Homo sapiens: one gene and its partner. The protein of the gene in region 2 purifies or fractionates together with the protein of the main gene of each other region. This does not show direct contact. Each region holds a gene or a part of one and is shown on either strand. Other genes may lie near its edges.

Evidence for each region. The genes of interacting proteins can lie anywhere in the genome.
Region 1: the proteins of SSC5D (region 2) and GCC2 purify together in Homo sapiens (affinity purification with mass spectrometry; 2 studies listed by BioGRID and IntAct, with this or other methods). This does not show direct contact.

What each region holds. Positions count from the first base shown.
Region 1 is NC_000002.12:108,501,149-108,504,904, forward strand, and holds part of GCC2 (GRIP and coiled-coil domain-containing protein 2), read left to right. Parts: intron 1-3,756. UniProt on the Homo sapiens protein: Golgin which probably tethers transport vesicles to the trans-Golgi network (TGN) and regulates vesicular transport between the endosomes and the Golgi.
Region 2 is NC_000019.10:55,498,368-55,502,123, reverse strand, and holds part of SSC5D (soluble scavenger receptor cysteine-rich domain-containing protein SSC5D isoform 1 precursor), read right to left. Parts: intron 2,309-3,756; coding exon 1,712-2,308; intron 1,635-1,711; coding exon 1,320-1,634; intron 1,091-1,319; coding exon 923-1,090; intron 1-922.

The DNA.
Region 1 (3,756 bases), on a different chromosome or scaffold from region 2:
GCTAATTTTTCTATTTTTAGTAGAGACGAGGTTTCACCATGTTGGCCAGGATGGTCTCAATCTCCTGACCTTGTGATCTGCCCGCCTTGGCCTCCCAAAGTGCTGGGATTACAGGTGTGAGCCACCACGCCCAGCCATTTTGTTGTTTTTTTATCTATAACAATTATATATATAAATATATTTTTAATGTGCCACTTATTGAAGAAAGTGGTCATTTATGCTATAGCAGTCCTGTATTTGGGTTTTAATCATTACAGGGTAACACTGAACTTGTTCTAATTGCCTATAAATAGGAAGATCCAGGTGCAGTTGGGTGGGATGGTGGACAAAAACACATCATAGATGGTATTGTGTGCTTTCTAAGACATCAAGAGGCCCAGAATGTCCAGACATCTTACTTTTGCCTGATTGACCTTATCTAGTTGGTGTTCTTTAACATGTTCCCCATCCCCTGTAAACCCTAATAACTAAACTGATAAGAGTCATCCTCAAAATTGAGCAGGCATCTGAATCATCTGGTATACTTAGTAAAATTCCAATTGCTGGTCCCCAATTTCTGACCCAAGACTCTGCATTTTTAGCAATTTGTTGCTGATACTTCTGGTCTGGAGCCCATACCTTGAGAACCCCTGGTCTAGAGGCCTGATAAGATTCAGGCTTAATTTTTTTTACAGACATACTTCATAAGTAGTATTGATAGTTTCTTTGAATCTGGTTTTTTATAATCTTTCTAATGATGAAGGAGGAATGTTCTCAATACTGACAGTAATCTCAGTTCTTCAAACTATAGGATAGGTTTCTGTAGCCACAATAGTATTTTCGTCACAAGGGCCCAAATAAGAATACATCATGTGTATTTTTAGTAGTTATTCAAATTACAAATTCACTGTCTTTAATTTATTCTAACAAAAGTAAACCTAATTTTATGATTATAAAAAAGAAGAAATCTAGTTACCTAAGAGTAAAACTGCCCCTATAAAAAAACAAGACAGAAATCTCAAAATTATAACTAATTTTATAGTTATAAAATCAACCAGGACTTTAAGAACGTTTGCATTTTAAAATTAAAGTTTTCAATAGCTTTCAATACAACAATGATATTATCTCAAAATACTCAGCATGTCTAACAGGCCTCTTTTAAAAGCTCAGCATGTTTAATGTAGATGTTGCTAACGTCCAGGTGGCTCCTATAAGTTAAGGGTCCATTGATTTAGAAGTTCTAAAAGAGACTAACCTAAGGGATACCAAGAACAGATATTTTTAAAGAATTTCATAGAGGAGATACACATTAGAAACCCAGAACTCTAAGATGTGCATTTGCTAAGTCCTGTAAACAGACAGGAAAACACATTTAAATTAGTTTGCCCTTTAAAGATTATTTACTACTTGTCTCTTATCAATGTGAGTACATAAAAGAGACCTTATTACAATTAAAAACAATGATGGTTTAGCAGCAGATTTAGATACCTTACATTCTCTCTTAAAGAGAGAGAATGTAAGGCCTGGCACGGTGGCTCACACCTGTAATCCAGCACTTTGGGAGGCTGAGGAGGGTAGATCACCCAGGAGTTCTAGACCAGCCTGGCCAACATGGTGAAACCCCGTCTCTACTCAGAATACAAAAATTAGCCGGGCGTGGTGGCACATGCCTGTAATCCCAGCTACTTGGGAGGCTGAGGTAGGAGAATCGCTTGAACCCGGGAGGCAGAGGTTGCAGTGAGCTGAGATGGTGCCATTGCACTCCAGCCCGAGCAACAAGAGCAAAACCCTGTCTCAAAAAAAAAAAAAAAAGAATGTAAACTACAAGATAGTTCAAAAGAAATTACACAGAATTCAGCATGGGAGAAACAAAAAACAATAGTGGGAAAAGACATCAAACATGTTTTTACTAATTGAAGTTCTAAAAGGAGAGAAAAGAATACAGCACAGATAATATATGAAGAGAATGGCTGGAAATCTTTCAGAACTGTTGAAGGATATCCACAGATTCAAAAACCCAATAAAATCTCAAGCAGTATTAAAAAAAAAAGAAGAAATCTACTTCTAGTCACATAAGAGTAAAACTGCCCCTAAAAAAGACAGAGAGAAATCTCAAAAGCAGCCAGAGAAAGAAGACACATTGCCTCACAATAGACTTCTCAACAGCATTGGTGTAATACTATCTCATGTACTAAAAGAAATAACTGCCAACCTTTTATATTTTCCAAGATCTCTTCTGGAAAACAAAAACTTTAAGAATCTGCCTTCATTGAAAATTCTTAATGATGTACTTTAAGCAAAAAGAAAATTTCCTAGGTAAAAGGTCTAAGATGCAAGAAAGAAAGACATGCAAAGGAAACTTACCACCATATTACAGATATGGACTGTCAGTCTGACTGGTCACACTAGGGGCATTTTGTTACCAAGGCCTTGAAAATAATAACCAACACTGCATACATGAGGGATGCCAGAAGAAAGATCTGAGAGCCACTCTTCCTGGCACTGAAGGAAACAGGGCCCATCAGAGCAAACAAGTACCTTTTGCCTCTCTCATCTCCTTGGAGGCAAATGTTTATAATCTCTGGTTTTGTGTAAAGTTTATAACAGTATTTTTCATTCAGGTTGCTACCTATTAGTGGATGGTGAAATTAATTTGGTGGATCACATTCAGAATATTTTTTTAAAATCAAAAGAATACAAGCTGGGCTCAGTGACTCACACCTGTAAGCCCAACAGTTTGGGAAGACCAGGCAGGAGGATTGCTTGAGAACAGGAGTTCAGAATCAGCCTGGGCAACATGGCGAGACCCTATGTCTGCAAAAATTTTAAAATATCCCAGATCTGGTGGCATGTGTCCATAGTCCTAGCTACTCAGGAGGCTAAGGCAGCAGGATTGTTTGTTATAAGGAGTTCGAGGCTGCAGTCAAACTTCTGGTCGAAATCCTGGTCATGCCACTGCATTTCAGCCTGGACAACAGAGTAAAACCCCATCTTTAAAAAAAAATTAAGAAATAAAAATAATATGTCAAACATTAGAATATGTTGCATCTAGTAAGGGTAAGCAATTATTTCTTGAAACTCTACATATATACATGAGTGTTGGTAAATACCTGACTGTATCATCAGCTCTAGATATAAAATGTTTATGATGTTGGCTGTAAGTTAATGAGGAATAGTTTTCCTTTCTGTGGGTTTGGGTGTATTTGGGAAACATTAGCTTAGGGGGTAAAGTAGGTTACCCAACTCGGAAAAGCAACATCAAAGTCCTTATAATTAACACATATTAGGGGCCCAACTTAAATTTCAAGCAGATGTCATGAGCTGCTCAGAGTAGCGTGTTACAACTCTGCGTTATAAGGTAAAGTGACTTAGAGTGTAACAGTAGTCCCCAAACAATGTCAAATAGACACTGGTAAGTATAGATTGCTCCTCTCCTTGCATCACAAATGTTAATTCACCTTGCCCCCACACACATTAAAACTCAGCATATTTCACAAATTGAGTGTTTCATTTCTATTTCAGGTAGACTTATGGTAAGTCAGTTTTGCTCCCCAAATAAGTTAGCCATATAGTACTTCTATATGCAAAATTTGAATCTCAATTTTACTACTCAAGCAGGAAGTAAAAGTCATTTTTCTATATCTTCTTTGCTCCCAGACTGTGTTACAGTTTACAGATCTGAATATTGTCACTTGTACACCATACATACACAGAGGTCTAAAACTCTCTACAAGTAAATAAAGACGAAAAAAAAGCCCAGCAACCCAATAGGAAAAT
Region 2 (3,756 bases):
AGTTTGAGACCAGCCTGGGCAACATAGTGAGCCCGTCTCTACAAAAATTAAAAATGAGCCGGGTGTGGTGGCGCACATCTGTAGTCCCACCTTTTCAGGAAGCTGAGGCAGGAGGATCGCTTGGGCCCGGGCAGTCAAGGCTGCAGTGAGCTGAGATCACACCACTGCACTCCATCCTGGGCAATACAGAGATAGAGATGATGAGGGTGAGAAATGGATAATGAAAAAAAGAGACCAACAGCAAGTGAGAAACAGGAGCAGAGATGGATTCGCAGGGATCCTGAGAGATGGGGATACAAGGAAGACAGGCAAAGAAAAAGGCAGAAGAATGTGGTGACAGTGATGTGGGGGCCAAAGCGGGGCGTGGTCCCAGGTGTGGAAGGAGCTGCAGCAGCAAGACAGAGGCCATAGAGCAGAGGGGGATGGAGCTGTGGCCCTGGAGGCTGATTCTGCTGGCCAGAGGGAGGGGATGGCCAGGGTAAGGAGAGAAGCTGCACTCCAGGAGTCCCCACCTCTGAGCCATACCAGGCCCGGACCAGAGCGTGAGCTTCAAGAATGGGTGAGGTTTCGCTTGCTCTGGGGGAGCTGGGGTGGGGACGATGATGTGATGACAGAATGGCCCTTGGTTGTGGGTTTGACTGAGGGCCCCAGGCTTGCATATTGTGTGGCTTACAGGAGGGCCATGGGCTCAGGATTGCTGAGCTTAGCCTGATCTCTTAGATGGTGTCCTTGGCTCTGAAGAAGTGTCACCATTGAGCCCAAGGAGGTAATGCGTTTAGGGTCTCAGGAGCCAAGGAAAACCTTTCCAGGGTGCCCCGAGGCCTCAGCCAGCTCATTGAGAAGGGTCTTTCTGGAAACCCTGCAGGGAAGCGAATGGAGGTTTATGGAGGCCCTCCATGGCCACCCCAATCAGGCCTCTCACCTGTGTCCGGCAGGCGCCTTATTGCTGGGGAGGAGCTACCCGGGCGCCGGGTGGTCCTCCAGGGGAGAGTGTGTCCAGGTACCCCCGCTGTGGTAGTCCCCTTGGCCAGGTCCTCTCTTGAGGTGGGGTCCCAGGTCCAGGGGGGATAATCGTCATAGTCTGTGTAGCCTTTGGAGAAATTGGGGTAATGGTTGACCCCATCCTCTTTCTCAGAGGTCCTTGCTGCTGCTCTTCCCTCCCCTTTTGGAATCTTCTGGAGCAACTCTGGGATCTCCCCACCCCGACCCCTCATACCCAGTTCTTTAGAGTCGACCATGGTGCCGTCACCTGGCCCCACCCTGACTCCATTCTCCTGGCCACCCCCGACAACCCCACCACCGCCGCCATGCCCTGGTACCAGTGCAGGTGAGCCCCACGTCTTCCTCGTGGTCACAGTTGTGCTTCCCCCAAGCCCCCGAGGGGCAGTCGCTCAGTGAGGCCTCGCTTCCCTTACAGCCCATGTCATCCAGCCAGATGGGCCCAGTCCCAGGGCCGTAATGGGTTTTGCCTACTCGAGGCCGGACCTTTCCACAGCCCAGTTCCCAGCAGGCCACAGTGGCGTCCCGCAGGTCCCAGTTGTCATCACACACTGTTCCCCAGCGTCCGGCATGCCACACTTCCAGCCGGCCAGCACAGCGGTTGGGCCCATCGGCCAGACGAACCCGGAACAGGCCTGCGTGGAAGGCCCTTAGGTCAGGAGGGAGGGTCAGCCTCTCCCATTCTCTCCCCACACCCCTCACGGCCACTCACCTGATTCCCCAGTGGTGCTAACACTGGGAGAGGGGGCCGGGTCTTTGGGTGACTCTGGAGACCCTTCTGGGATCTCAGCAGATGGCTCCAGGGAGGCCTGAGGGATACTCTTGATAGTGGACTCAGAGGTCATTTCTTGGGGGCCTTGAGTGGTCAGCATTGCCATGGTCTTAGTGGTCCGTTCTCGGGGGGCCTGAGGGGTCAGCGTGGCAGTGGTGTGAGAGGTCCATCTCTGGGGGGCCTCCGTGGTCGGCCTTCTGGTAAACTCAGAGGTAGGTCTTCGGGAGGCCTCAGTGGTCAGTGCTGCAGTGGTCTGTGAGGTTAGGTCTGGGGGGCTTTGGGCCCTGGAGTGTTTCGTGGTTGGCATCACTGGGGGTTGAGTGGTTGGTCTCTTTGCATTTTTTGTCACCCACTTCTTAGTACTCTTAGGCATTTTCCCTGGGGCCTTCGTGGTTGTTTTCTCCAGAACACTGGCAGTCACACTTGCAGAGGGCTTGGTGGCCAGCTCTCCCGGGAGCCAGGCATCCCGATCTCTCCCCAGTCCAGGAATCCAGCTCCAGCTGAAGGGGTCTGAGATGGAGTCCAGGCCTGGGGGCCCTGGAAGGTGAGTGGGGCAGGAAGAGAAGACAGAGACACCATGATGACAAGATCATCTACCCAGGCCCCTCCTTCTCTCCAGTCACTCACCCAGTTCCCATTCATTCATCATTCATTCATTTATTGTCACAAATATTTATTGAGCACCTCCTATGAGCCACACACCATATTAGACCCTCGGGTAGCCTATGGCAAGCCAAACCCGACACTGCCCCCGCCTTCTTGGCATTTACAATCTGGACATAACTGACCCCCTCACCCTTTCACACCTGACCTCTCCTCTCCATCTCCTCAGCTTCTGCTCTGAGTCAGGGCCTCATTTCCTATACCTTCTGACAGGTCTCCCTACCTCCCTGTCAATTCTTACTGACCACCAGTGGGGTACCCAGGTCCGACAGGCCACTCCCGAACTCAGAATCCTTCTGTGGTGCCCCCGTGGCCCTCAGGAAGACGGGGACAGAGGGAAGAGCCGTAGCTTCCAGCAGAGGTGATGCCTCCATCCTTTGAGACACCACTCTCCATCTTCCATCTTTCTGATTAGCACACGTGTGCAGTAAAGGATTAACCCTGCCCAAAGAAAGGTTTCGCCTTTTCCCCGGCTCCTGGGAGATGACTTCGAAGCCTTTGGAACACCTTGCCTGATAAGAGATTTTTTTCCCTGGGGCACTTGGGCCATGCCAGATCGCCTATGCTAACAGTGTGATTTATGGTCAGCCACATGTACGTGGCCAAGTCCCCACGAACACTCTGGATGCCAAGGCTTGGGGGAACTTCCCTAGTTGGCAGTTCCTCATGTGTGTTGTCCCACTTCGTTGCTGGGATAATGAAGTGCTGTCTGCATAACTCCACTGGGACAGGACAGTTGGAAGCTCACACCTACTGTCTCCTGAGCCCTGCCTCAGGCGCCTCTTCCCTTGGCTGATTTTAATCTGTATCCTTTCACTGTGATAAACGATAACGCTGAGTGTAACAGATTCTTTGATTCTAAGAGTTCTTCTAGCAAATTATTGAGTCTGACAGTGGTCTTGGTAACCTCAAACTATAACGAGTCACACAGGTTTGCAATGATTTGTTAGAGTATTTCTCTACATGAGCTGTGAGCTATTCAAAGACCAAGACCATGTTCATTCCATTCATGAGCCCAGCATGAGGACCCTGCACCTGGCTCAGCCTCTGCAATTTAATAACAGGCATTGCCTGAGTTTATGTTAACTGGCTCTCACTTTGGCTTCTTTCCATCTCCCAGTGCCCTGCCTGCTTCCTTTCATCGTAGGAAAGCTAAAGCTCCTTTCTTAGTGGGAAATTTCCTTGATTCCTGGAAGGAAGAGGAAGCAGAAGCTTCTCTGAGTGGGAATCCCAGATCTGCCAGTTAGTTGTTGCTGTGTGATCTTGAGCAAGTTACCCAACCTCTCTGTGCCTCAGCTTCTTTATCAGTAAAATGGGCATAA